7 separate regions of the Homo sapiens genome follow, and regions 1, 3, 4, 5, 6 and 7 are each linked to region 2. The links come from fine-mapping of genetic effects on gene expression. A gene starts in region 2. Each other region holds a variant in brackets. All regions are shown on one strand. Distances are between the middles of the regions. Region 1 overlaps CRIM1 (cysteine rich transmembrane BMP regulator 1). Region 2 holds the start of CRIM1 (cysteine rich transmembrane BMP regulator 1). Region 3 overlaps FEZ2 (fasciculation and elongation protein zeta 2). Region 4 has its middle 110 kb from the start of CRIM1-DT. Region 5 has its middle 89 kb from the start of CRIM1-DT. Region 6 overlaps CRIM1 (cysteine rich transmembrane BMP regulator 1). Region 7 overlaps CRIM1 (cysteine rich transmembrane BMP regulator 1).

Evidence for each region. PIP is the estimated chance that this variant, and not a neighbour inherited with it, causes the effect.
Region 1: its variant is fine-mapped to the expression of CRIM1 in monocytes (TOPMed, PIP above 0.99). The same link has a PIP of 0.9 or more in monocytes after Pam3CSK4.
Region 3: its variant is fine-mapped to the expression of CRIM1 in whole blood (INTERVAL, PIP 0.98).
Region 4: its variant is fine-mapped to the expression of CRIM1 in whole blood (INTERVAL, PIP 0.94).
Region 5: its variant is fine-mapped to the expression of CRIM1 in blood mononuclear cells (TOPMed, PIP 0.90).
Region 6: its variant is fine-mapped to the expression of CRIM1 in whole blood (INTERVAL, PIP above 0.99).
Region 7: its variant is fine-mapped to the expression of CRIM1 in whole blood (TOPMed, PIP 0.97).

The regions. Positions count from the first base shown.
Region 1 is chr2:36,469,516-36,473,584 of GRCh38, reverse strand. The region is part of intron 5 of CRIM1 (cysteine rich transmembrane BMP regulator 1); the gene reads right to left. Among named protein-coding and RNA genes, the nearest start is that of CRIM1, 120 kb to the right of the region's middle. The variant T/C (reference allele first, on the strand shown) is at 1,720.
Region 2 is chr2:36,353,970-36,358,038 of GRCh38, reverse strand. CRIM1 (cysteine rich transmembrane BMP regulator 1) reads right to left here and starts at 2,261. Exons shown (of 17, transcript NM_016441.3): 1 at 1,416-2,261. The coding sequence starts at 1,746. CRIM1-DT (CRIM1 divergent transcript) reads left to right here and starts at 2,469. Exons shown (of 2, transcript NR_037631.1): 1 at 2,469-2,951; 2 at 3,058-3,290.
Region 3 is chr2:36,591,217-36,595,285 of GRCh38, reverse strand. The region is part of intron 1 of FEZ2 (fasciculation and elongation protein zeta 2); the gene reads left to right. Among named protein-coding and RNA genes, the nearest start is that of FEZ2, 4.9 kb to the left of the region's middle. The variant C/A (reference allele first, on the strand shown) is at 2,039.
Region 4 is chr2:36,246,825-36,250,893 of GRCh38, reverse strand. No RefSeq gene overlaps it. Among named protein-coding and RNA genes, the nearest start is that of CRIM1-DT, 110 kb to the left of the region's middle. The variant C/T (reference allele first, on the strand shown) is at 1,918.
Region 5 is chr2:36,264,904-36,268,972 of GRCh38, reverse strand. No RefSeq gene overlaps it. Among named protein-coding and RNA genes, the nearest start is that of CRIM1-DT, 89 kb to the left of the region's middle. The variant C/T (reference allele first, on the strand shown) is at 2,170.
Region 6 is chr2:36,476,245-36,480,313 of GRCh38, reverse strand. It overlaps CRIM1 (cysteine rich transmembrane BMP regulator 1), which reads right to left. Exons shown (of 17, transcript NM_016441.3): 6 at 3,243-3,425; 7 at 620-817. Among named protein-coding and RNA genes, the nearest start is that of FEZ2, 120 kb to the left of the region's middle. RefSeq lists a silencer at 3,594-3,888. The variant G/A (reference allele first, on the strand shown) is at 1,710.
Region 7 is chr2:36,450,628-36,454,692 of GRCh38, reverse strand. All of the region lies in intron 4 of CRIM1 (cysteine rich transmembrane BMP regulator 1), which reads right to left. Among named protein-coding and RNA genes, the nearest start is that of CRIM1, 97 kb to the right of the region's middle. The variant G/AG (reference allele first, on the strand shown) is at 2,007.

The sequences.
Region 1 (4,069 bases), 120 kb before region 2:
TAGGCACGTCCATAGAGATAGAAAGTAGATTAGTGGTTGCCTAGATCTGAGAGCTTAGGGGGAAAATGGGCAGTGACTGCAATCAGTTCAGGAGTTTTCTGATGGCTTGATGAAAATGTTCTGAAACTGATTGTGTTGATGATTGCAGAACTCTGAGCATACACTGAAAACAACAGAATTGCACAACTTAAGTTGGTAAATTGCATGGTGTCTCCTAAAGCTATTTTTAAAAAAAGTACTCCCAAGCTGAAGAAAGTTCTCCTGAGGTGATGAGCCCTGCTCAATCTGCCGGTGAAAGCTGGATGATGATATCCCCATCTTTCAAGGGCTCTTCTGTCCATCCCCAAATCATTTAATATGTCCCCTTGCATGTCTAAAATACTTTCACCGCATTTGGAGGATATTTGCATTTGCATTGTACTCAAGGACAATTACTTTATATTTATTTTATAACAACCCCGCTAAGAAGACAGAACGAGTATTATTAGTACCAGTTTTTTCGATAATGAAGATGAAACTTAAAGAGATGACGTGATTTGCTTAAAGTCACATGAATGAGGCAGTGATTTTATGTGTGCACACGTACTACATGTGAATGTTTAAACTCCTTCCTTAGTGCTACATGGATACAACATTTTTTCAGAAAATTAATGTTAAAAAAGAATCATCTTACCATGGCTCAGAATTCTTCTATATACTTTTAGCTAACAAACTAATCTGAGTTGGGATTGAAAGGAATTGTGCAGCTACACTATAAGTTCCAAAAAGTATAGAAAACGGAGTACTTTTATACATTAAATTTGCAGGCTGTAGAGCGAGGCAAAATACTGTACTCTAACAAAATGAACATCCATGGAAACTAAAAAAAATAAACCAATCAATACTAATTATTTGGTTGAGTTGATCAACCACAGCTACCATCTGGGTGAAGCCACAACCCTGGTGCATGATCTGAGGAAGTGTGGAGGGCAGGTTCTGGTTATGAATAAAGCTGCTTCAAGTGGACTTGTTTTTATGGTAGGGTGTGCAGAAGCTTAAGCAGGAGGGGATGGGACTGACGAGAGAACTGTGGCACTTAGGTTTCACTAGCAAAAGCACAAGGATCAAGGGAGTGGAAGTGAGAAAGATGGAGAATCCTAAAAACACAGCCTGGAAACACAATCAATCTTTAAGGGTGAAAAAAGTCACACAACACAATGAAATCTGTTTGATGTTCAAAGAGATTTATAGAGGCTCTTAAGAAAAGTATATGATAAAAAGGCTACCTGTGGTTTTTGAGGAGCAATGACCAATTACTTCTTCACCTATCAGGGGTAGATGTGAATCTCAGAACAGTGTGGAGATTGCCACAATCTCCACAAAAGGATGATTTAAGTGGATGTGGAAAAGTGTTATGAAGAAATAATTTACTGTGTAATTTGTACTTCTCAATATGAAGCACAGAAGTGCCTTTTTAGTGATTTTTTGTATGTGTTTTGCGTCTGCAAAATTAAACTTTAAGTTTCTAAGTTCTGGGATCTTCCCTTCCTTCTTGAATATACTTCAGAACTCCTAAAAGAGAATTTTGTAATATAGACTATTAGTACATGCTACTGCCTACCAAACTACACTGATTGGTGGATGGTGATAGATACACCTCAAAGATATTGTGGGTTCAGTTCCAGACCAGCTCAAGCAAGTCACACAAACTTTTTGGCTTCCCAGTGCATTTAAAAGTTA[T/C]GTTTACACTGTACTGTAGTCCATACTTGTCTAACCTGCAGCCTGCGGGCCACATGAGGCCTAGGATGGCTTTGAATGCAAACTTTCTTAAAACATTGTAAGATGGTGTGTGTGTGTGTGTGTGTGTGTGTGTGTGTGTTTAAGCTAATCAGCTATCATTAGTGTTAGTGTATTTTACATGTGGCCCAAGACAATCTTCTTCTTCCAATGTGGCCCAGGGAAGCCAAAAGATTGGACACCCCTGCTATAGTCTATTAAGTATACAATAGCATTATGTCTAAAAAACAATATACATTCCTTAATTTAAAATACTTTATTGCTAAAAACTGCTAACGATCATCTGAGCCTTCAGTAAATAGTAATCTTTCTGCTGGTGGAGGGTATTGCCTTGATGCTGATGGCTGCTGACTGATAAGGATGGTGGTTGCTGAAGGTTGGGGTGGCTGTGGCAATTTCTTTAAATAACACAATAATGAAGTTTGCCACATTGACTAACTCTTCCTTTCATGAAAGATTTCTTTGTAGCATGTGATGCTGTTTGATAGCATTTTACTTACAGTAGAACTTGTTTCAAAACTGGAGTCAATCCTCTAAAACCCTGCTGTTGCTTTATCAACTAAATTTATGTAATAGTCTAAATCCCTGGTTGTCGTTTTATCTGGTGAAGATGTTGTCACAGCATCCTCACCAGGAGTAGATTCTATCTCAAGAAACTACTTTCTTTGCTCATCGATAAGAAGAAACTCCTCATCCTTTCCAGTTTTATCATGAGATTGCAGCAATTCAGTCACATTCTGCAGGTTCCACATTTAATTCTAGTTCTCTTGCTCCTTCTACTACATCTGCAGTTACTTCTTCCACTGAGGTCTTCAGCTCCTCAAAGTCATTCATGAGGGTTGGAATCAACTTCTTCCAAACTCCATGTTAATATTCTGACACCTTCCCCTGAATCACCTGTGTTCTTAATGGCATCTAGAATGGTGAGTGAATCCTTTGCAGAAGGTTTTCAATTGATTTAGTTCTGATCCATCAGAGGAATGACTATCTACAGCAGCTAATCTTATGAAATGTTTTTCTTAATTAACAAGACTTGAAAGTTGAAATGACTCCTTGGTCCATGGGCTGCAGAATGGATGTTGTGTTAGGCACGAAAACAACACTAATCTTGTACACCTCCATCAGAGCTCTTGGGAGACCAGGTGCATTGTCAATGAGCAGTAATATTTTGGAAGAAATCTCTTTTTCTGAGTAGTAGGTCTCAATGGTGGGCTTAAAATAATCAATAAACCATGCTGTCATCCAGGCTTTGTTGTTCCATTTATAAAGCACAGGCAGAGTAGATTTAGCATAATTCTTAACAGCCGTGGGGTTTAGCTTAAAGTTATCAGCTGCATTAGCCCCTAATAAGAATCAGCCTATTCTTTGAAGCCAGGCATTGACTGCTTCTCTCTTGTTATGAAAGTCCCAGGTGGCATCTTCTTTCCATAGAAGGCTGCTTCCTCTACACTGAATATCTGTTGTTTAGTGTAGCCACCTTCATCACTTTTCATAGCTAAATCTTCTAGATAACTCTCTGCAGCTTCGACATGCAGCTTGTCCCATCCCTCCACCAAAACAAATTAAAACCAAAGTGAAAAGAGAAGGACTATTCATGGAGGATGTTCTCTCCATCTGTTCATTCAGGCTAGTGTTTTCAAAACTCAGGAGTTCTTGAGTTCTGTGTGTTTTTAAATCCTTAAGTTTTCCCTTTATTAATTATACTGATGACATGTTCTTAAAGTTGTGAATGTGGACTAGCCTCAATAAATATCTGGTCTTGCTAACTATACTCTCATAATTAATGGCTCGGTATTAAATACTATAAGACTAAAAATATGTTTGCTAGTTTCAATTGGCTTATTCCACAGGGAGAAGAGGGGAAGTGTGTGTGTGTGCTGGAGGACACCAAGCATATCCTATTTCAGGAAAAGGGGAAGAGAACAACCCTTAGAAAGGATTACAACAATGTGTATCACTCTTTAACAAAATTAGCTTAACAAGGCCCCAGGAACACGAGGGGTGCTCAATAAACACATACTGAGTGGAGTATTGCTCTCAAAGTGCCAGAATATCTCCATTATTCTATCAGTAGAAGACATTACGTCCTTAGAAACATTATGAGCATAATTGCTATATAGACAGTGGGTTCTTAATGTTTTCTGTACTAGTGTTTTTTTTTGAAAATTAACAGCCTGCAGGTCTGAATTTTCTAGGCCAAAATTTTACATGAGGAGCAAGCTGATGCTGGGTACGGCTCCCCTTTAAATGGTGATTTCACATGTTACTGTCTTAGAGAAAATTCTGTCAGGGC
Region 2 (4,069 bases):
CAGAAAACCCTCCCCTATTTTCCTGAACTGTCCAAACCCCAAACTATTCAGGTATAAATAAGTACCTATGTGTGTGTCTGTGCGTATTTAGAGAGAATCACAGCACTGAAGCCTTTTAATAGGTCCATTGTTATCCTTAAGGCTGTCACCTCCTTTTTCAGTATCCCAGCATACTAAACAAACACACACAAAGATGCTTCGGAATAAACCGTTCCCTGGACGGTGCTGGCTGTGAGTAGTGAGGAAGGCACGCCGGGCAGAGGGCGCCTGTCCCTCCTCGCCGCCTCCCCAGAAACGAGGCTGCTGCGTGCGCTCTGCTCACTCGCCAGGATGCCCCCGGAACAGCATCATCAGCCCAACGTCAGCCAGAGCAGGGATCCCACTTTTAACTGATGCTTACCGAACCGTGCCCCCGTTAGCCACATCAAAATAACTCACTGCCTCGCTCTAGACCCCAAACCAGACCAGGCACCCTGAAGGCCGACGCAAGCGGGCAGGGATTAAAGCCAACACGCACTAACATTGGCTCCCCAACGAGAAAGACTCCACTAATCTAATCTGTTTCTCCCACCGTCAATCTCGACACCGCGGAGCACAATGCGTGCTGGAGAAGCCAGCAGAACAATCCCCGCTGTCAAACAAACAAAAAGGAGGAACCGGCAACACGACAGGAAACACGCGGGTATCTGATATTAAAAAGCAGCCACTAATAGCAACAACTTTTTACTCCCAGGTGCAACCCCCACCCCCCTTTCCTTTCAGGAGAGAAAGCCTTTGACCGTTTACAATGGGCAAATAAATGAGTAACCACCGTGTGTAACTTCCCCTGGGCTGACATATTCCGCGGCTGAAACTGATTTATCTGCGGAGGAGGAGGAAGGGGTGAAGGAAGAGCTCAAGGAAAAAATAATAAGAGTCACTCGGGGAGTGCGAGCTGGAGACACGTCTCCTCCGCCAACAGAAAAAGGACTTTCGCGGCCGGCGTGCGGCTCACGGTGCCACACTGCGCCAGTGCGGGGAGGGCGGTAGGGCCGGGCTCCCCGAGGGGCTCGCGCGCGGCAGAATCTGCAGTGCCCCCCGCCCGCGGCGCCCCCACCTCGGGGAGCAAGGCCGGGCCACCCAGTCCCAGCAGGAACGGCCACACGTGTGCGCGTCTGCGCGGGGACAGGGGCGATCCTCCACTCGCTCGCCCCCACCCACCATACCCAACCTCGCCCGCGACTGCCTAAGCGTCGGGGGGAACAAGGAGAGGGAACGCAGGGCCGCGGGGGCACTCTCCTGGGGGCGGCGGCCGCCCCTCTTCCCGCAGAGCCCTCTTTCCTCCAGAAAGTCTCGCCCAAACTTTGTTCGGCACAACCAGCGCCGAGGGGGCGGCGCAGGCCAGGTGGGAGGGGGCCCGCAGCGGGCGGCCGTACCTTCGCAAACGCCCGCTTCGTACTCGGTGAGGGAGTCGCCATTGAGCGGGGGGCGGATGACACAACGCAGCCCCCGGTCGCAGGTTCCGTAAATCCCGAAGGTGCCGCCGCAGCTCTCGTTCCTCTGGCTGGCGCACGTGTAGCAGCAGCCGCAGACGCCCTGCACGATGCTCCCCGGGCAGTTCCTGGGCTCCTCGCACTTGGACTCGTCACAGGGCAGGCAGACCAGCGCCCGGGTGCCGGAGCGCGCCAGCAGCAGCAGCAGCCCCAGCAGCGAGACCAGGAGGTGCCCGCAGCCGGCCAACCCCCTGTCCCCCGCCACCAAGTACATCCTCCTGCGCCGCCGCCGCCTCCTCCTCGCAGCCGGGCCGGGAGCGGGGCGGGCGCCCTCCCCTGCGCGGGGCACACGCGCCGCCGCCGCCGCACCAGCAGCCCGCGGTCCTCACCGCCCCTCTCGGGGCCCCCGGGGCGCGCCTCCCCTCGCGGGGCGAGGCCCCCGCCCCTTCTGCGGGCCGCGCCGACCCCGAGCCCACGAGCCTTGGCGCCGGCGGCAGCTTCCCCTCCTCCTCCTCCTCCTCCTCCCGGGAGGGAGGGGGAAAAAAGAAAAAAGTTTCCTCCCGGCAGCTCCGGTTCAACCCAAACTTCTGGCGCGGCGGCGGCGGTGGCTGCTGCGCTCGGCTCCAGCCCGGGCCGGCGGCGCCTCCTCCCTCTCCTCCTCCGAGTCGGCCGGCCCCGCAGCGGCGCAGCCTCCGGGCCGGTCCCCGCCTCCCGAGCTGCCGAGTGGGCGCGGTGGCGCAGCACAAGATCCGCGGCGTCCGCTCCGCGCGCCCCGCTCGCCTCACTCCTGCGCCGCTCCTCCGGGCGCTTGTTTATGGCTGGAGCCTCAGCCGCTCGGGCTGCGCCCTCCCCCATCCTACCTCCTCCCCCAGACCTTCCCCCCACCCCCACGCGCCGCGCGCCGCTCATTGGCTGCCCCCCCTCCCCGGCCCGGCCGGCCCCCTCCGCCTCCCCCTCCCCCTCTCGGGCGGCCGGGCCCTTCCTCCCTCCCTCACACGCCTCCACCTCTTCCCGATCTCCTCCTCCCCGAGCCCGGCGCACCGAGCCGGCCGTGCCACCGAGCTGCGGCTCTGGCCCCGGCGCCGCGGGTGCGCTGCGGATGGGCTTGGGGCGCACCCAGCGAGCAGCGAGAGTCGCGGTGTCCCGGGCGCTCGCTGGCACCGTGGCCGCAGCGGCCGGCCTGGGAGCCAGGAGGGCGAGGCGGCTGCACCTTCGGGGCCAGATTGGAGTTCGAAGAGTGGCGGGTACCCCAGAAGCTCGGGGCCGGGGCGATGGCTGCAGCCTCGGGAGGGTATCGCCGGATCGAACTCCGGGAAAGGGAAGCAAAGGCATGGAACCTCCGCACACTGGATGAGAATCCATCTTCCATTCGAGCTGGGAATAGACTTTGTGAAAGATATTATGTAATGGAGTCTCGGGAACCCTGAGACCTCTCCAGCGAAGCTGAAGTGAATTAATTAAGTGCTTTAAACGGTCTTGGTAAATATTCCGCGGGAGCTGGGGAGGACCGTTGGGATGGCTGTAGCTTGAGTTGAATTTTAACTGTCCTCATTCTGGGTTTTGTCGCTCTGCTTTCTGTGCCAAGGTGCTGTGTTACGGGAGAGAGTGACTGGAAAGTAACAAAGCTGAATCTTTCTCCCTGGAGTAAGGCCGAAGACTGGATTACTACACGCCTAGACGTGACACTACACCCATAGATCTCATGCATCATTAATGCCATATGACATTGCCATTTTCTTTCTCAGTTCACGGACAAAAGTGGTGGGTTTTCATTGTCTTCACTGATTGTCAATGCATTAATAAAGAAGATGTGTGGTACATAGTCTTTGTGATAAATCAGGTAAAGAAGCAACGGAAGTGATGCAAAATGCACGGTGTGGAGATGGTTTCTCTTCAGTGGTTGTCAGAAAAGGTTTTCGTAATGATGGCTCTGTCATTGATGGGATATGAAGTAGTAATCCGCTCCGTAGTGACCTACCATTCACAAGATGGGTACCAGGTGAATAACATTAATTAATTGACAAAAAGTGACTGTGGTCAATGGGGGAAAAAATCGATCCCGTGGCAGGTGTGACGTGGGAATGGCTGGCCCACCCTCTGATCCAAGATGGTCTGGCTGCAGGAAGGTGGCAGCCAAGTGGATTCTGAAAATCGTGACTAATGAACCGAAAGTTAATAGCTGGCAGTGCAAGGAAAGAGGAAACAAAGCTACCTTTGAAATGTTATGTTTGTGGAACAAATTCATACTTACGATAAATATTTTAGTTTAACCACTCTGTCTAATCCTGAACCCAAAAGCCAGAGTTACCAGTGGACTATTCCCCCATGATGGGCATCAGCAAACTAAACATTTCTCCTATCATATTTCTTTGTCCAAGGAGAGGAAGAGGCTCATTAATTATCATTGATTATTATAGGGCCATGAGGAAGATGTTCAACCGTGGAAAAGGGGAGAGAGCATTGCATTTTCTAGACGGGTTTAAAGAGTTGTTGCAATGAAATGATTCCTGTAGTTGGGTGGGAAGTCCGATTAGATGATCTCCAAAGGCCCTCATACCCTGTGGGTCCATAATAAGTGTTAAGTGGCAAAATCGTTT
Region 3 (4,069 bases), 240 kb before region 2:
GAGTTGTAAAATTATTTCATGATATATGACAGTGTAATAATAGAAATAAAGTACACCGTAAATGTAATGTGCTTGAATCACCCCAAAGCCCTCCCCGACCCTTGGCACTTCATTTAACTTCTCTGAGCCTCAGCTTTTGTTTTGGTTAAATATGGATTGTATTTACGTACTGAGGTTTTACTTATAAGAGTATTCTGCAGGATTCGATGTTGGCAGGACTTTGACCTCCTTGCAAAAGAGCTGTCCTGACCGTTGTTTACGACTGGTTGTAATACTTGGTGATAAAGATGAAGGCAGTTCATATGTCTTGACTGCAGAATTCTAGAAATCTTTCACTAGAGTTGCCTCTGTGTCCTTCCAACTACCATTGTTTTGACCTTGGTGGAGACTGTTAGTTGGCTTTCATTTTCTTGGAAGATCAAACTCACTGACAGGCACTTCTAAGTGAAATATTCCATCCCATTTGCCTTTTTCTTATAGCCTTGTTTAAGAAGGAGCAAATCAGCAGACAAAGCAAACTCCTCAAATTCTGGACTGTCTTCACCTGCTAGTGTATCCTGCTTAAATTCCTGCCAGGATTAGGTCTATAGTCAGTGATACGGTTTGGCTGTGTCCCCACCCAAATCTCAACTTGAATTGTATCTCCCAGAATTCCCACGTGTTGTGGGAGGGATCCAGGGGGAGGTAATTGAATCATGGGGGCTGGTCTTTCCTATGCTATTCTCATGATAGTGAATAAGTCTTACAAGATCTGATGGGCTTATCAGGGGTTTCCGCTTTTGCTCCTTCCTCATTTTCCCTTGCTGCCGCCATGTAAGAAGTGCCTTTTGCCTCCTGCCATGATTCTGAGGCCTCCCCAGCCATGTGGAACTGTAAGTCCAATTAAACCTCGTTTTCTTCCCAGTCTCGGGTATGTCTTTATCAGCTGCATGAAAATAACCTAATATAGTAAGTTAGTACCAGTAGAGTGGGGCGTTGCTGAAAAGATACCTGAAAATGTGGAAATGACTTTGGAACTGGGGAACAGGTAGAGATTGGAATAGTTTGAAGGGCTCAGAAGACAGGAAAATGTGGGAAAGTTTGGAACTTCCTAGAGACTTGTTGAATGGCTTTCCCAAAATGCTGACAGCAATATGGACAATAAAATCCAGGCTGAGGTGGTCTCAGATGGAGATGAGGAAGTTGTTGGGAACTGGAGCAAAGATGACCCTTGTTATGTTTTGGCAAAGAGAACTGGTGGCATTTTGCCCCTGCCCTAGAGATTTGTGGAACTTTGAACTTGAGGGAGATGAGTTAGGGTATCTGGCAGAAAAAATTTCTAAGCAGTAAAGCATTCAGGAGGTAACTTGGGTGCTATTAAACGTATTCAGTTTTATAAGGGAAGCAGAGCATAAAAGTTTGGAAAATTTGCAGCCTGACTATGCGATAGAAAAAAAAAAAACCCATTTTCTGGGGAGAAATTCAAGCTAGCTGCAGAAATTTGCGTAAGTAGCAAGGACCCTAATGTTAATCCCCACGACCATGGGGAAAATGTCTCCAGGCCATGTCAGAGACCTTCATGGCAGCTCCTCCCATCACAGGCCTGGAGGCCCAAAAAGGAACAAGTGGTTTCGTGAGCTGGGCCTAGGGTCTGCCTGCTGTATGCGGCCTAGGGACTTGGTGCCCTGTGTACCAGCTGCTCCAGCTGTGGCTGAAAGGGGCGAGAGTACAGCTCAGGCTGTGGCTTCAGAGGGTGCAAGCCCCAAGCCTTGGCAGCTTCCATGTGGTGTTGAGCCCACAGGTGCACAGAAGTCAAGAATTGAGGTTTGGGAACCTCCTTCTAGATTCAGAAGATGTATGGAAATGCCTGGATGCCCAGGCAAAAGTTTGTTGCAGGGGCAGGGCCCTCATGGAGAACCTCTGCTAGGGCAGTGTGGAAGGGAAATGTGGGGTTGGAGCCCCCACACAGAGTCCCTACTGGGGCACTGCCTAGTGGGGTTGTGAGAAGAGGGCCGCTGTCCATGAGTTTATCAGGGGTTTCTGCTTTTGCATCTTCCTC[C/A]TTTTCTCTTGCTGCCACCATGTAAGAAGTGCCTTTTGTCTCCCACCATGATTCTGAGGCCTCCTCAGCCATGTGGAACTGTAAGTCCAATTAAACCTCTTTTTCGTCCCAGTCTTGGGTATGTCTTTATCAGCTGCATGAAAATGGACTATACAGTCATTCAGTGTTTGAAAATTTCTTATCCAGGAAGGTATGAGCCAGAAACCCAGCAAGTTTAGTAGTCCACAGAAACCCAGCAAATTTAGTAGTCCACAGACATTGCCTCTAATTCTACTTCACTGGCATTAGAGGAGATATTCCAACAGAGAGGAGAATAGGAATGGACTGTGCATATGGGAGCTTTGCTGGGTAGATGAGTTAGTTCTCTAGAGATTTTTGGGTTCACATTTTTATTAAGGCTAATTTTATTTTTTATTTTATTTATATATTTTTAGAGACAGGGTCTTGCTCTGTCTCCCAGGCTGGAGTACAGTGGTGCCATCATAGCTCACTACAGCCTTGAGCTCCTGGGCTTAAGCAGTCCTCCTGCCTTACCCTCCAAAAGTAGCTGGGACTGCGGCACATGCCACAGGCCTGGCCAATTTTTTTTTTTTTTTTTTTTTTGTAGAGATGTGGGGCTCCCTTTTGTTGCCCAGGCTGGTCTTGAACTCCTGGCTTCAAGCAATCCTCCCACTTTGGCTTCCCAAAATGCTGGGATTACAGGCATGAGCCACCAGGCCCATCCCTAACGTGCATTTTAAAGCCAAACATCATTTGGGATGTTATGCTTTTAGCCGTTGCAGTCCTATTGCTTCTTTTTAGCGCCCAATCCCTATTTGTTAACTATGTTATGTCTGTATTTTAAAATTTTCATTCTTGGGCTTAATACCTAGGTGATGGGTTGATAGGTGCAGCAAATCACCATGGCACATGTTTGCCTGTGTAACAAACCTGCACATCCTGCCCATGTACCCCGGAACTTAAAAAAAAAATTCATTCTTATGTTTATGCCCCAGCCAGGATTGTTTTTGTATCCTAGTGTCTTACACACTTGGAAAGAAAGCCTATTGCTTATTCACAATTAGATACCTAATAAACATTTTAGGGTGTTTTTTTCTACATGACATCTTTGTGTATACCTCTAGCTAGTAAGTAGCTTGTATGTTTAGTGTTTGATTTTACGTATCCCAATTAGATTTCAAGTCACTTGTATCTCTGAACTTTAGTTTTTCATAAAACATCATGTTTTATTGTGCTGATTATTACTTTGGTATTGAAACCTGAATTTTGGTTGTGAAATTTGAGTTTGGTGTTCTTATCTGGTGTGGTTTGGGACTCTCTTCAATACACCTCATTTGAATTAATGCTTAGAGTAATGGAGCTGGAAGGAGTATCTGCTTCTTGTCCAGGTCTCTCATTTATAGAAGGGCAGAGGATACCTAGGGAGGTTAAGGGGCCTGGCCAATGACTCGTTATTTGAAGAAGGATGGAGATGAGAGTTTGTTTCCCTAGTCTCAGTCAAATGCCCTTACCATTTGACCCTCTTGCCTCCCTGTAATGCTGTTGGGTAATAAGGTCAGGTAACTGCATTGGATAGAGCCTGGGTGTGTTTTATTGTGAACTCCCTCTCTTTCTCCTTTTTGTTGTATCTGCCTTAGTGCTTAGCTTCTTTATTACAAATTAGATATTAAATCCTGTTCTCACATTGAGAGCGAATTCTTTCTCCAGAAAGGATAACAAACCTTTTGTTTGAGAGAGATTTTTCACTTTTTGAAATGGTCTGTTTGTTTGAAGTTACAGAAGAAAAATAAGTGTAATGCACAGTTGTATTTATTATTCATGTGACCCTGGAAACATTTCTTCCCCGCCCTGTGTTTCAGTTTCTTCATCTGTAAAATGAGGTTAATAATGGTTCCCCCTTCTAATGTTGTTTTTGAAGATTACATGAGTTAATACATGTAAATTGCTTAGAACAGTGCCTAGCACCTAATATAATGGAAGTGTTGCCTACTGCCTATTGGCAGTTTTCTGTACGGCTTCACCTTCCCTTAG
Region 4 (4,069 bases), 110 kb after region 2:
TTTTATTTCTGGCATAAATGAATATCTTTCAGAAACTATGCTTCCTGGGATCCAGTCAAAGTATCTTAAATAACAATTCCACTTAGACTTTTCCAGCAGGCAAGAAAGGGTAATATTGGTGGCTTATAAAGTTTTGGGCTTATTGATACAGTTTGTGGACTGGAACAAAAAGGAGATTTCTTTATTTAATGAAGTTGATCTCAACTATCCCTGTGCCTCAGGGATAGATTTTTTTAAAAATCTGGAGTTTTTAAGAACTAAAGGTGTTGAGCCCAACTTTTTGAGATTCCATGTCAATTGGCTGGGTGGCTAGGTGGGGGGAGAAGTGAGTATTTTTACAAACCTCTGAGTAGATTCTAATGTACAGTCATAGTTGGGAACCATTGATTTGTCACCAAAATGGTAAGCTGTGAGTGCATATACAGATCCAACATCATCTTCAGGAAACTAGGCAAGCCATAGCTTCTTATGTCTTTTGTGTGGTATTTCCCTTGGAGTCCTAAAAAAATGGCTTAAACTTGAGCCTCACAATGGGTAAGTTTGCCTCTGCTTTTTCTTTTGCAAAGCTATTATATAAATGTCCAAATTATTGATGAAGATCAGGGTGAGAGGATTAAAGAGAGGGAAAGGCAGAGAGCATCTCTCACAACATGGAACAATGAAAGAAAGCACATGTGCTTTTGTTTTGGCAAAGTATGCCACTAATCTAGTTATATCCATCATGTCAAGCTTGCTTACAAATGTATTGTTGTCTGTCTATAGAGATGTGACATTAAGTAGCCCATATACTGTGTTTTTTATTTGTTTATAGGTTAATTGTTCAGAATATTGATCTCCTGGGCTCATTTTCCCATTCTTTCTGAAATACCCTTTCAAATCAACAAACATAAAATAGAACAGATTCTTCCACACAGGGGACTCTTAAATGATGCAGATTCTTTCTACTTGGTGCCTATTAAAAAATCACTTTTGTAAGAAAGCATAATCCAGTATACATATTGCTGCTACTCCAGAAGTTACTGCATTATTTTAGGCCCTAAATTTTGGAGGAATGGATGAAACTAATTAGGATGCACTAAATTTTTGACCACTTACCGTTTTTGTTAATTTAGCTATATATATATATATATATACACACACACACATATATATATACATATATACATATATATACACATATACACATATATACATATATACACATATATACACATATATATACACATATATATACCTTTAAATTGCAATAAAGTTCTATACATTTGAATTCAAAAAACTATTTAATGATGAATTACTGAGTGAGAGCTGCTGAGACAGTATGCCTGAAAAAAATGCTATAAAAAATAAAAGCCTAGTACAGCCATTATGGAAAAGAGTATGGATTTTCCTCAAAAAGTTAAATATAGAACTACCATATGATCCATCAATTCCACTTCTGGGCATATATTCAAAGGAAACAAAATCAGTGTCTTAAAGGGAAATCTACATTTCCATATTCATTGCAGCATTATTCATATTAGCTGAGATATGGAATTAACCTGTGTCCATCAATGAATGAATGAATAAAGATAAGGTGGTATATGCACACAATGGAATACTATTCAGTCTTAAAAAAGGAAATCCTGTCATTTGTGACAACAAAGGCAACTATGGCATGATCTTGTATGAAATTCCAAAAAGTCAAACTAATAGAAGCAGAGAATATAATGGGGGTTTACAAAGGGCTAGGATGGGTGGGAATGGGGAGATTTTGGTTAAAGGATAAAAAGTTGCAGTTACACAGGATCAATAAGTTCTGGAGCTCTACTAAACAGCATGTTGACGCTAGTTAATAACAATGTATGTATATATGAATTGCTGAGAGAGTAGATTTTAAATGTTTTCACCACTAAAAATAAGTATGTGAGGAGATGGACA[C/T]GCTAATTAGCTTGATTTACTCACTCCACAATGCATACGTATATCAAAGCATCACATTGTACACCGTACATAAACTTTTTAAAATCAATTACAAAAAATTATAAAATAAAAGTAAATAGGAAAAAAAGCTTAATTCTGAGTAGTGGGGATGCAGGCTGTTATGTGCCACCATTTTCTACTTCCCATAGTTGTCGTTACACAGTAACCTCTGCCTTAATTTTGTAACGTATTTTTTTTTTTTTTTTAATTAACAAGTACATTCAAAGCCAGTTGCTTGGCTCTTGGGTGGGTATGTGAAGAGAAGCTTCCTCAGGGCCTGGCGAGGGAATTTTAATGCCCTTGATGAAATTATGTGTAAATGAGACACTAGATCAAAGAGCACCGCAGGAGATATACCTAATGTAAATGACGAGTTAATGGGTGCAGCACACCAACATGGCGCATGTATACAAATATAACAAACCTGCACGTTGTGCACATGCACCCTAGAACTTAAAGTATAATAAAAAAACAATCAAACAAAAAAACCAAAGAGAACCGCAGGGAAGGCAGAGCCAGAGGCAGAATCACGCGGGAAGGCCAACATCTAGAAGTCCAAGATGGCTTCTCAGAGTGAGTGCAGAGAGACTCTGAAGAAGATCTGGAATCTTCCTTCTCTTCATATTTAATTTTCTAGGGTGTATCTCATCCAAAGAAAATTCTGTACACGAGAAAAATGTTTCTGGAAAGCACTGGTGCAGCCTCTGTCAGGTACGGTTTTTTTGGGGGGCCGTATTTCTTAAGTATAACTTTAGTTTTCCTCATACCACAAATTTAGGTATCTCTAGGATCTTATCTACATGGATGTGCTCTTGTTGACTGAAATGTGTTTTTCTAGCCATGAACAGGGCACAGGTAAAATGGTAGAGGGTGAGTGAGGATTTTGCAATTATTGGAAACAGATGTGCATACATATTTTGATATTGTTGGAAGTATTTCTTCCGTGTAAATTCCTAGAGGAGAGATTGTTGGGTTCAGATGCAAAGGAACGCTCTATGTAATTTTGTTAGGCATTGCCGAATTCCCCTCCATTAAGATCACATCAGTTTGCATCCTGACTAAAAATGTGTGAGAGTTCTTGTATCCCCTGCTGCCTCAGCAACGGAATATATTGTTATACTTTTTAATTTTTGCCAGTCTGACAGGTAAGAAATGGTATCTCAGTGTGGTTTTCACAGGTATTAGTCTTGTTATGAGGAGGATCATTTTTTCATGTGTTAAACAGCCATTTGCACAGTGTGTGCATGTGTGTGTTTGTGTGTGTGTGTATGAATTGTGTTGTTTTTTGCCAATTTTGCTATTGGCTTACTGAAATCCTTTTGATTTCCTTACTCTCCTGCCAATAGCCACACAATCTGAGGAAGGGAACCTAAACATTATATGCAGGCAGAAGCTCCCAAGTGCTTGATTTGGGTTTGGAACCAGGCTGGTTGCTTAGGAATTAGCTAGGTAATATAGATTAACTATATCTTTCTTCAGGTTTCTGATTCAAAACGACCAGGGCGGTCCCAAGATCCTGTGTTTTTAGCAACTAATCCTGGTGGTTTTGGTGCCCAGCCATGTGTGGGAATTATTGATAAGACTGCGCTTCCTGTAAGAACACCAGCTTCAGGGTCCCTGACTGGGAAGAGAAAGAATGTACTAGAGGAGAATGAGCTAGAGGTGGCTGGAGAAGGCTGCTTATACTTCAGGAATGCATCAGAACATTCTAACTTACTTAATTTTACCCATCAACTCTGTCCTACCTGGGGAGAATGGAGGTGCTGTTCAATCCATTCCTGATCCTCCAAATGCACTTGGATCTGCATTTGTTATTACTCATTCCTGGAGTCTCATCTTTGCAAGTGTATTGCAAGTGAATTATCTTTAATGTTTTCCGGAAGCATATTCACCTTGTGTGTCATTTTGGAAATACTGTTGTGAAATTAGCATGGCATTGTTAATTAGATAGAACTGATAGTTTGGTTATTTTCTGTTCAAAAGCAGGGAAGAATAAAAATACATTCTTATATTTTAGTTAGTATATTACAATTAGGCCTATGATATGGAAACAAAATACTAACATTTAGTTTGTAGAAGCCACTAGTTCTAGCCCTCTTATTCTTCATTGTTT
Region 5 (4,069 bases), 89 kb after region 2:
TGTATACATCATGGCTCTGCTCAAAGTCACTCCTGCAAGAAGCCCAGAGGCTTCTATCTGGAGGCTTGATCTTTTAATCTAATTTAGATTTTTTTGTCTTGACATTTTTAACTCATATATTGATATTTTTTATTTTCTTTCCCGGAAGTCATTTTAAATCTTTGTAGAATAAGAGAAGTATTTATGAATACATTTAAACATACACAAATACACATTTTAATCAACCTGAGGAGGGTGATATGTGGACTATTGCTTTATAGTCTAAATGGTCAGAGAGATAGATGTACACCATTCAAGTTTTGCTTTATCTAGTAAAATAACTTTCTAATTGAGAATTACAAGTACAAAAACAACAAATAATTACACATGAAGTATTCATTTAGAATATTATTCGAAATAAAAAACAGATTAACAGACTATTATAAATAAGTCTATGATTTAAGGTAATAATACTAAGATTAGGTTAAATGATTTATTTGCATCTTTTGCCTTTGTTTGGGAGGTGGCTCCTCCAAATATTAGTTTTGTGATGTTAGGCAGTTTATTTAATGTAAGCCTCATTTTTTCTTATCTGAAAAATTGGGAAATTAATTATACCTACCTCATAGGATTGTTTTGAGGATTAAATAAGTTAATACTTTTAAAGGTTGGAACAGTAAGCAAATATAGACATACCTCATTTTTGCTTTATTGAGCTTCACAGATACTGCTTTTTATTTTTTTAATTGAAGGTTTGTAGCAACCCTGCATTGAGCAAGTCTATTGGCACAATTTTTCTAACAGCGTGCACTCACTTCATGTCCCTGTATCACATTTTGGTAATTCTTGCAATATTTCAATTTCATTATTATCATGTATTTTATGGTGATTTGTGATCAGTGATTTTCTTCTATTCTGTGGGTTGTTTTTTCACTTTGTTGATAGTGTTCTTCGAAGCACAAATGTTTTAAATCTTAATGAGGTGCAAATTATCTATTTTTCATTTGCTATTTAGGTTTTGCTGTTATACCTAGGAGTCTATTGTGAAACCTGAGGTCATAAAGATTTACTTTTATGTCTTCTAAGAGTTTTACAGTTTAGCTCCTGTAATTAGGTCTTTGATCTAATTTGAGTTAATTTTTATATATGGTATGAGTTAGGGGTCTAACTTATTATTTTCCATGTTGCTATCCAGTTGTGTCAGCACCATTTGTTGAAAAAACTGTTCTTTTGCCCAGTGAATTGTCTTGGTAGCCTTGTGAAAAAAAATCAATAAATGTGAGGATTTATTTCTGGACTCTAAATTCCATTGCTTATTCTTATATCAACACCATTTTATCTTGATTACTATAGTTTAGTAGTAATCCTTCTAGTACTCCCATTATGTATGTGTTGATGACTTAATATCTCATACTTTTCTGAAGCTGTTTTCATTTCTTCTTTTTTCCTTGAATTGCATAATTTTTATCAATCTATCTTCAAGGTTTCTAATTCTTTCTTCCGCCAGTTCAAATATACTATTGAGCCTCTCTCATAAATTTTTCATTTCAGTTGTGTTTTTCAACTCCAGGATTCTGACTTCCCCCCTCCCCTCTTCCTCTTCCTCCTCCTTCCTAGTAATTGTTACATCTTTATTGACATTCTTTATTTGATGTGACCTTGTGATTACACATTTCTTTACTTGTTTAATTGTGGTTTCTTTTAGTTCTTTGAAGTTATTCACAATGGCTTCTTTTAAGACTTTATCTGTTAAACTTAACATCTGGTTCCTCTCAACAGGCAGTTTCTTTTGCCTGATTTTTTCCCAGTGTGTAGGTCACGTTTTCCTGTTTCTTTGCATGTCTCATATTTTTTTTTTTTTGCTGAATCTGGACATTTTATATAATATAGCAACTCAGCACTGGTCACCCCCTTATGGGGCTTGTTATTGTTCTTTTGTTTCTTTTTTTTAAATTTAACTGACTGACTGTATTACTATAGTGGCATCTATTCTTCCCATGCAGTCCAAAGCCTTTCATGTTGCTCTTCAGGCTTGGGTGTGGTCATAGCCACTCTGGGATGACAGTAATTTTGGTAGTTGATTCATGTTTTCAACAATGCCCTGGGTATAAACTGTGTCACAGACTTACCCAATCAAATTTGATCACCTTTAAAGGGATAGTTTCTGAATTCAATGTTTGAAGGTTGTTG[C/T]TGTTGTTGTTATTGTTTGTCACAAGAGGGCTCCTCCCAGCTGTCTCTTTCCTTGGTTCTCTTAGGCAAACTAGCTAGCTGACAGCGTAGCCTGTATGTACAATGCGTCTGCCAGTCTCCTCCCAGTTGCCTTTCACCACAACTTCCACTGTTTCTTAGGGTGCTTTTAGGCCTGAATTTTTCCACACTCTCTTGATAATGAAGACAGTTTTTTTGTTGATGGGAAAGAGGCTAGGGGATATGTGTTTTTCTGCCTGCTCTCTCCCCTTAGGTAAAATCTCTGGAGTCGGGGGACAATGGTGTGCTTCTCTTTGAGTCACACTCTCACTTTAGGAGCTGAGCACTCATTGGAGGCAGACAGAGGTCTCAAGTCTTCTTGGTTTGCCTCTCCCTGTGTATGAACTCTACCTCTGAACCAGGGTAAGGGTGATTAGTGGCTCAGTATTTTCAGTGGCATCTAACACAATATAGAGCCTCTCTCCTATAAGTAGGGACTGGACAGAAGAAGGGAGCATGCACCTCTTGGCTATACTCACCTTGAACTTCAAATGAACAACAGGTAGCTGGGGAAATGATGAGAAACGCTGACACCCTGCCTTTCCTGCGAACAGAGCCCTCTGACTGGGAGCTGGGTAGGAGAGAAAACTCTGTGTTCTCAGCTGTCCCAGCCTGGAGAGAAGTTTCCATCTCACAGAGCTCGGGGGAGGAGAGGGCGGAAAGAAAGGGAAGAATAGGTCTTGGTTGAAATAACCGCGGGCTCTTGCTGTTCTTACCACATTTTAGTAGATTTTATTGAACAAATATTTCTTCATTTGATGTATGCCCTTAGGATCCTTTCCAGAGACTTTAAATGGTTGCTCTTTTTCCATAAATTTTTTTTTTTTTTTACCAATTTTTCTAGCATTAGGGAGGGGGGACTCCATGGAGCTTCTTAGGCTGTCATGCCAGAAACAGAACCCATGTATTTACTTTTACATGATATAATAAATACATGTGATAGAAATGATATTATAAACACATGTGGAATGAAACAACACATGTTCACCTATCTCTATGTGCTGTTTGTTTATACGATTCCCCTACATTCCCATCCCTCAGAGGGACCAAGTATTTTTTTCCTTTTTATTTTATTTTAATTGACAAATAGTAATTGTATACATTCATGAGGTATAGTGTGATGTTTTGATATGTGTATACATTATGGAATGATTAAATCAGGATAACTAACATGTCTATCTCTCAAATACTTTTTTTTGTGTGTGTGAGCATTTAAAATCTGCTCTCTTAGGAATTTTGAAATACACATTACATTATTGTTAATTATAGTCATCATGCTGTGCAATAGATTTTAAAAACACATTCTTCTGTCTAACTGACATCAAAGGGAACAAGTTTTGACATTTTATGTTTATTATTTCCTTTACCTTAAAATTATTTTATCAAATAATTATTCATGTGTAAAATATATATTTAATATTAATTATTTTTGAAATTACATGAAGACTTGCTTCAATGTAGCCTTCTTAGACATAATTTTTTACTCATACTATCAAGATTTTTCTACATTGCACTATGTGGCTGTAATTAATTCATTTTTACTTTTACATAGCATTTCATAGGGTGAATTGATCATATTTACAAGTGTATTCTCCTTTTGATGGGTACTGGGTTGTTCTCAGTTTTTCTTTTCAATCAGTGTTTAGCCCACTTTATTATGACCTTCATCTCTAGCATTTGACTGAAATTGGTGACAGTAAGTCATTAATTATTTCTATGTTGCCAAATCAAACAGAAACTTTTAAGTTGCTGGGAGCTGAAGGCCGGTTACATTAAGTTCTCATCTTACAAGTCTACACATTACTATTCATCTAAGTTGGCCTCTTTCTCCTTGAAAAAAATC
Region 6 (4,069 bases), 120 kb before region 2:
AATGAGCTGGAATAGGAGTCGGGACAGAAAAACTAGTCCAGGATGCCTCAGGCTTCCCTCCACTGAACAAGAAGAGAGATAGCAAATGCAGGTAACCACGACATAAATAACAGCACTAGAGGAATTGCAAAGCCACAGCCATTGGTATATGAGAAGTAGAACAGATACTCGGTGACGGCACTAGGCAGTGGAAATTGGCTTTCATGGTTCCAGTCTTTTCTTCTAGTTGCCAGGACGCTTGGGCATATGGAAGCATCACAAGTCAAAGGTGCTAAGATTGACTCATCGGTCTCATTTTCAATTTCATTTTGTTAGGCTGACCTTTGGGTGTTAATTAGGTTCAAAGTGAACTTAATTAAAATGTACATATTCTTATACTGTAAAGTATTCAGACGCGCATATTTGCAATGGCAAAATAATGACCACACTATTCTCATTTCACATGTGCAACCTTTCCTCAAATCATCAGTTTGAGCTGTTTGATAAATTTGTTGGCAACTGGTAACAGCGTGAAGCAGACATTATGCCCAAGGAAATAAACAAACAAGAACGTACGCTGGTAGAAGCTTCTCCAACAGAAGACATTCACCAGGGACTCATTAGCATCTGCAAGATTTACCTTCGCACACAGGGCAACACTCCCCAGGCACTTTCACAGGGTTTGTGCAGGTCTGTCCGCAGACGGTCGCAACGCAGTGGCGTTCACCGTTGACGCACTGGCAGAATGTGCAGTCGTCTTCCCGCCACCGGTCTCCGTGGGCAAGGATCAGGCCATTGGCATAGCAGCCAGCGGGATTATTAAAAGGATACACTGGATCTAAATGAGAACATGAGTTCAGAGTTAGACTGAGCATCTTCTAAATCTTATCTCTGTCAGTACCCAGAGACATTTTTTCCCTGGGTTCTAGTCATCAGCAGTTCTATTCCCACTGTGATCAACAGAAGCGCAGGGTTGCATGAGGAGTCTCTGGGGGTGCATGCAAAAGAAGCTGTCACACTGAATTTATGTCTACTCATCCTGACACAGCAGTCCCAGAGAAGAGGATCTGTAGTCTAAAAACCAATGTGCAGGTGTTATCACTCTGTAAAGTTGGAAAGCTTTGTGGCAAGAGCTGTGGGTTGGTAATTAGAAAACATGACTCCATTTTAGGCTCTGACAATGTCTTCGCAGTTGTAGACATAAATGTTTATCAAACCTCAACTTCCCTAACTGTAAAGCGGAAGCAACAATGCCCTAAGTCAGAGTGATATTGTTACTTCTAAAACTCTATCTCATGTACCTGCACGACCATGTGGGCAACAGTGGTCTTGCTGTGGACTTGTTCATGACAAGGCTAGTCTAGACATACCATGGGTCACTGTGCCTTGGAGGAGCGCTGTGAACTTAGGCCATTTTTTCTCCCATAAGTTGGGAAGCTAAGCTGCAGCCCCAGGTGGGAGACAGAAGTAGCCAAAGCTACTGTAAAAAAAAAAAAGTTTCTGAGGTTACTGACAAGTATATAAATACTGCATATGAAACCCTCTCTTATCCCTCTATTGAGAGCAACCAGATAAATTACTCAATTTTCTTTCTCAGAAATACATAAAAAACTGGCTTCAACAAACAACTACTGCTGTGCTGAGAGAGGAATCCAGACAGTTCATAGAGTTTGGTCATCATTATTCTAAGGACATAGTGGGACATTATAATAAAGTCAGTTAGAAGGTCA[G/A]CATTTAAAATAATGCCATCACAGCGTTAGGAAGGCAGTCTGCCAGAGAGGGAGGCGGCCAATGGACCTGAGCAAGAGAAGATTTTTTAAATTCCTGTGTAAAAAGTATTAGAATACATATTTTTCTACGTTGAGCCTGGATCTGAATTCCAGGAAGTGAGACATAACTGGATCCATGCCCAGACAACTCAGTATGATGACTACACAGAGGTTCGTATCTACATTTTTACAGCATCAACTGCTGCACAGTTTCAGAACTATTGCAGACTGGGGGCAGGTAGGGAACAAAACAATTAGAAAGGTTAAAAATTTGAAGTAATTCTTTTTAATTGTCAACATCACCTAAAAAATAAACTACTTTTCTCCTATGTTGGGTAAAATAACCTCTAGTAGGGAAAAGAACTCACTGTTATGAACTATGTTAGGAATGCAATTTTTATACTTTAAACATTTTCAGATCTTCAATATTATGTTGTAAATATTGCTCAAATATCAAAAGGAGAAAATTTTATGAAAATGAGGAAGTATGGAAAGTGGCATGACACTGTGCCCTCCCACTTTGTGTGCAGAGATCAGGCATAAGATTAACACATGCGACTTCAGATTGAAGATCTGGGGCCTGGTTAGGACAGGAAGGCTCACAAGACCTTCCTTTCTGGGGAAACAGTGTTGTGTTGTCAGAAGAACACTATAGACACAGTCAGGCACGGGGTTATTGTTACTGGCTGCAGTGTAAAGTGACTTTACAGGCAAGTGACTTTTCTCTTCTGAACTTCAACATCCTAATCTGTAAAATGTGTGGGTTGCAGGGAGTGATATTCAGAGCAACTGTTTTGAAATGCTTATTGTTTATGAACATCAGTGATGGGAAGATGCAGCCTGTTGAAGGAACATGAACATATTACTTCTTGGAGAGAAAAGGGGAATCCAGACAAAGCAGATTCCTGAGAGTCACACCTGACACCTGGCTGGGCCTTGAGTTGGTGTCACCAGGTGGTGACCTGATACCACGACCCCATGTGAACCACCACATATTTTCAGAGAAGCAGTAGCAGGTCCCTGATCTCCCTGGAGGGTCCTGGGTATTACGACAGTGGCAGAGTTAGTTCCTCTCTGGGCCGGCAGGCTGAGACTGTCAGGGTGAGGCCCACATTATCCTAACTGAGCAATCTGAGGTGAGGAGGTGGTGAGCTCTAATGCCAGGGTGAAGATAAAGCTTTGCCCTAGGACTTGCTGAGGAATTGCTAGAACTGCAGGGGAGGAACGGAAAACAACTCTGGGACATCTCACGTTGCCTGTGGAAAGAGGTGACCCATTGTCTACACCCAGGCATAGCTTCCCTTAGGGAAGTGTTTCCACACACTCTACCTGGCTTTAACATGCTAAAAGACAGACCATGGTGTCTTAAAAAAGGCTAAAAAAGGAACTTCAATATTCCTTTACTTTTGGATGAGACTGAATTAGGACGATTTTGATTTTAGAACTCTATACCATGTATGCTCCTGTTAATCTGTAATTAGCACCTTTTCTTACCTTCACACACTGGGCAGCACTCTCCTTCGGGCACGTAGTACCTCTCGCAGTTTATCTCACCACACTGGGCGGTGAAGCAGATGGCAACGCCCCCTTGGCATCGACAGAACCGACAGTTGTCCATTCGAAACATGTCTCCATCATAATATTCCACATTGTTAAATACGCAGGCTGGCTTTGTATCTGAAAAGAGTTAAAACAAACAAGGCATATTTGTAGTCATTTTTTAGTTGTGTCCTTTGATGTTTTTCAAACAGCCTCTAGAAAATTTCTAATAGGAGGTTATAAGTTGATGGAAATTTACTCAACTCAATGTAAGTTCATGTAACAGAAAACAATAAAGTGAAGCAAAACAAAATAAAATAAAACACACTGTTATCCAGTTTACACCAAGGAACAGAAATTCCCCCTAGGAAAATCTACACTGACTTCCTTCCATCCCAGACAAAGCTAAACTTTATGACCATGACACTCACATATCTGGTATGTGCTTTAAAGTGATTCTATTTGTTTGGTTAAATCATTGTCTACCTCAAATGAATGATCCTGCCTCCACATTAGGTTTTGTTCTGCTTCAAAAATTTTATTATGGTCTTTTTTGAAGTGGTGATGTTCTGTTCCCCCAGTGCTCTCTCTTAAATTCTTTTTCTCTGTACATGGTATAAACACGTATAATTTTAATAGTGTTTGGCCTTTAACAAAATACTCTCTATATGTATCACCTCACTTAATCCCTATAATGAAGGTCTGACATAGGTATTATTATCCTGAGTTTAAAAGTGAGGAAATCCTAGGTAGTTTACTCAAAGTCACACAGCAAACGACAG
Region 7 (4,065 bases), 97 kb before region 2:
TTTTTAAATATCAGTGACTAATTTAAAAATAGAAAAAAAGGGGCACATTAAAGAAAACATGTCTTGGGGTAAAATTCAGCCCCAAGAACTACTAACTGCAAACTGTGATTCAACCCTTTGACTTCCTCTGTGCTGATACTCAAGCTGTTAAGAGCAGCTAGAGAAAAGTCAGAGCTACTCTGCATCTTCTACCCTGAAGCCCCCCATCATGCCTCAGAGACCTCGGTTCATTCCTGACGATCACTTCTTCCATGATGCCTTCTCTAACTAGCAGCACAAAGATAAACAGCTGATGCTGTATGTGTGTGTGTGTGTTTGTGTGTGGTGGTGGTGAGGGGTGTGAGTGGCAGTTTGTGAAATGACCATCAAATGTGGGGGAGTGGGCACAGAGGGAAGGCATTCCAGATAGAGGAAAGAACACACTAAATTTACAAAGGCAAGAAAGAATACAGTGTGTTAAGTTTAAACTAATAGGTTAGCCCACCAGAAGTACACTATGTACTGAGAGGAGGACTGGGGTTATTATGGGGGTACTGGCAGGAGTCATGGCCAGAGAGGGAGGTCAGGGCTGAGTAATATGGGGCCTTGCCTACCATACTAAGAAGCGTCTTCACTTGTAAGAAACAGGAAAGTAACAAAACACCTTAAACAAGTAATGCAGTCTTGCAATGGAGTGGTTATCTCAAGAAAACCCAACATTGTCATGAATTCCCTTTTTCTTGAATCATAAAGGTAGGTGGGATTAGTGTTAATGTTTTAAGCTGCAAGACACATTACAAGTCGAAAAATCAACAACAGCCTAGAATGCCCTTCTCTCTTTCTCCATCTTGTGAACTCTGACTCATTCTTAAAGACTCAGTTCAAAAGTCAAATCTGACCGTTCTCCAAATAGGAATTAGCATGTGTTTGCTTTGCTAACTTTGTGTTTTTTGCACACTTCTACTACCAAAGCACACAACACTTTAAACTACAATGACTTATACATATTTGCCTTCCCTTTATAATATATGCTCTTAGACATCAGCGACTATATTTTATTCCTGCTGGGTAGCCCAATGCCTGGCACATGACAAATGCTCAAAATATCTGCTCCCTGAACAATCCAAGAACACTATGGGGTTTTGATGCTAGGACTTTTGCTGCAGACTAATTGTCTATCTAATTTAGTTAAAAGCATTCATTACTTACCCGTGCTAGGTACTGATGAGAATGAAATATATAGGGTGGGTCCTTGCCCTCAAAGAATCCACAATCTAATGTCTTAGGAATTATCATTAAAACTCTTCATGATCTAGCTATGGAAATCAAAGTCCCTGATCATATTATCATAAGAGCCATGACATATAACTTCCTTTCTTTTCAATCAAAAGCAAAGTCAGGAAAGAATAATTTACAAACCACTTGCTGTATAATACATTCACAACAGACTGACCAAGGCCAAGAGAAACCAGCTGTCTCTACCTCCTGGGTTCTAATTAGCAATTAAATGTCTACCAAATATAACCCTGAATTATCTGCAAACTGTTGCAACTACAATGATGGGGAACCCAATAAGCCATATCCAATGTAAAGGTGTACATGAAGAGTAAAATATATTCCGTGATTTGGGTTGCTTTTGGTATTTTCATTACAGGTAGGGCTTTTACATTTTAGACTTGCTTATTAGCTATGCAAGTAATTTCACAAAGCATTTTTGCAGAGCTGTTCTGTTTGCATGTGCCATGATGATGACATAGCAAAAGAGGGTATGGAGAGACCTCTGAGTTTCAATATTATCACGCTGTGGATTCCGCTTTCAACTTTACTGAAAGGCTTACGGAATTCAGTTAAGTTACCTTCTCTCAGTCCGACTCGGAGGGCCACATATACAGTGTCTGGTGATATCCATGACCACTCGGATTAAACTGGAAGCCACTGACTGAGAGCCTTCCCTGCTTGTTTTCGGGACTAAGACAAATACAAAATAAGGCTAGACACTAGGTCAAATTTAAGGTGAGATAAAAAAA[G/AG]CCTAAGGCCCTAGTACAGGAAACACAGCACGCACGCATCTGAAGAGAATTATTGACAAATCAAACACTCTACTAGGGAGACAGTTCATTTCCAATGGGCAATGGCTTTACTTCTAGGAAAGCATATTTTCTTCAATCTGGGGATAGGTCCAATAATAACATGGAATTCCTACAATTATTTTGTTTTAAAAACATCAGAGTTTAATATAGACTCTGGCTTTTTTAGTCATGAGTTGACTCGCTCTTTTGGGCCAAAAATTACTGTGACAGAGGGCAACAGAATAGATGTTCTTTTCTTAGTTGAGAAAGATGAGCTTCAAATACACTTCCAAATTTTTTTCTGCATGTGTTTAAAAACAGAGAGAATGCTACCATAATAGTATGTCAGGAGTCAGGAATGTTTTAAATCTGTGCTGTGCTAATGCATATTTTACTTATTATATAACTTAATTTTATTTACTCCCAAAAAGCAGCTGGAGAAATTATTCAAATTAAAGGGAACGACAACAACAAAAATGAACTGAATTATGGAAATTTGTCTACTAACAGATCAATCTTAAAAAAAAAAAACCCAAACTGTTAAGTGCCATCTTCTCTGAGACACTATCTTAGAACAGATGGACATGATAATGAATTACAACACTCTTAATTAGATAAAGTCCCTTTGAAAATGCATATGCAGGGATAGTTAAAACTGGTTAGCTTGAGTAGGCATGATATAAGCAACTTAATTGCCTAGCACAATGGTAAAAAGCACATGGATCTACAGGAAATATTATTTGATGGCCTAAAAAAACTTAAAACTGTCTCCAAGAAGAAAAAAAGAAGTGCTTTCTGAGCTCTGAACATGACCCTGACAGTTCCAAGCCACCCTCAGGAAGTTTCTGGCTTTGACATATTTGTCAGGTTGGGTTGATGCGCACTGTGTTGACAGCCTCTGACTCTTGCGTGATCCTCCCACCTCCCAACACCCTCCTAAAGGCTTCAAACCGCAGAGTTATGGGCTGTAGCTCTGGAGATAAGAGTTGACAAACTTTGGAAAGCTCTACCACGGAAGGATAAGCATTTGAGCACACAGAGCACTAAAGGATTCTTGATCCTGCTGCTCGTTCCATTTCTCAGAAGCAGACAGATGTTCCAGAACAGAGGAATAAGAAAATCCCTCCTGTCCTATTGAGTTTTCAGGAGGGAAGGGAGGGATAAGAAAAAATTGTCATCTGTTGTTCCATATGTATATGTGCTTTTTGAGGTCCTTGATTTCTCAGTTTGGATTTAAAGCTGGCATATTACTGTATGGTTTTTCTTAAATTTGGTTTTCATTGTTTGGTAGAAAGACTGTCTATTAATTGATTCTTTCCTTGAGGGCAGATGACTGTGTGTGTGTGTGCATGTTGTGTGTTTCCTTCTTATTACCTTCCAAAACTTGGGAGCCTTTTTGAAACTGGCATTGGTCATATCTGTAAGATGTTAAGACTCTTTAAAGCATGTGCCACATTTTATTCACCACTATACCCCACACCAAGCCCAGTGTTCTGCCTTCCATGAGGTCCTCGATGAGTATGTAATTATTTAACTGTTTTAACCGATTGGAGCATTTTAAAATCTGTACCTTGTTTTCACTCACTGTAGCTATGTGGTTAGATTAATTGGATTTAACTCAAGTGCTTCTGAAGGGAAGGGATAACCTGCCAAAGATTCCATTCGGCTGGCCTCATCCAGTATGAGTCAATTTCAGGCTGTGAATTCTGGAACCCCAGAAAACTTCTTCTAAACATCTCTATCTATTCACAAGAAACAGTGTGCTAGCAATCTGCTAAGATTCTATTATCATAATGCAAGACAGCACCAACAAAATGAATTTTCTTGAGAGCACAATTTCAAATTGAAGCAGCTTGGTGCAAATATTTAGATGTTATAGTGAAAGCAAACGACATTGATGACCTTCGCTCTGGTCATGGGCTGTATATTTGACATATTTTTCAGACACAATGGGACTACCATCCTTCCTTTTATCTTATTTCCTTTCCTGGAGTTACAGAGTTTGGAGCTGTGATGATAG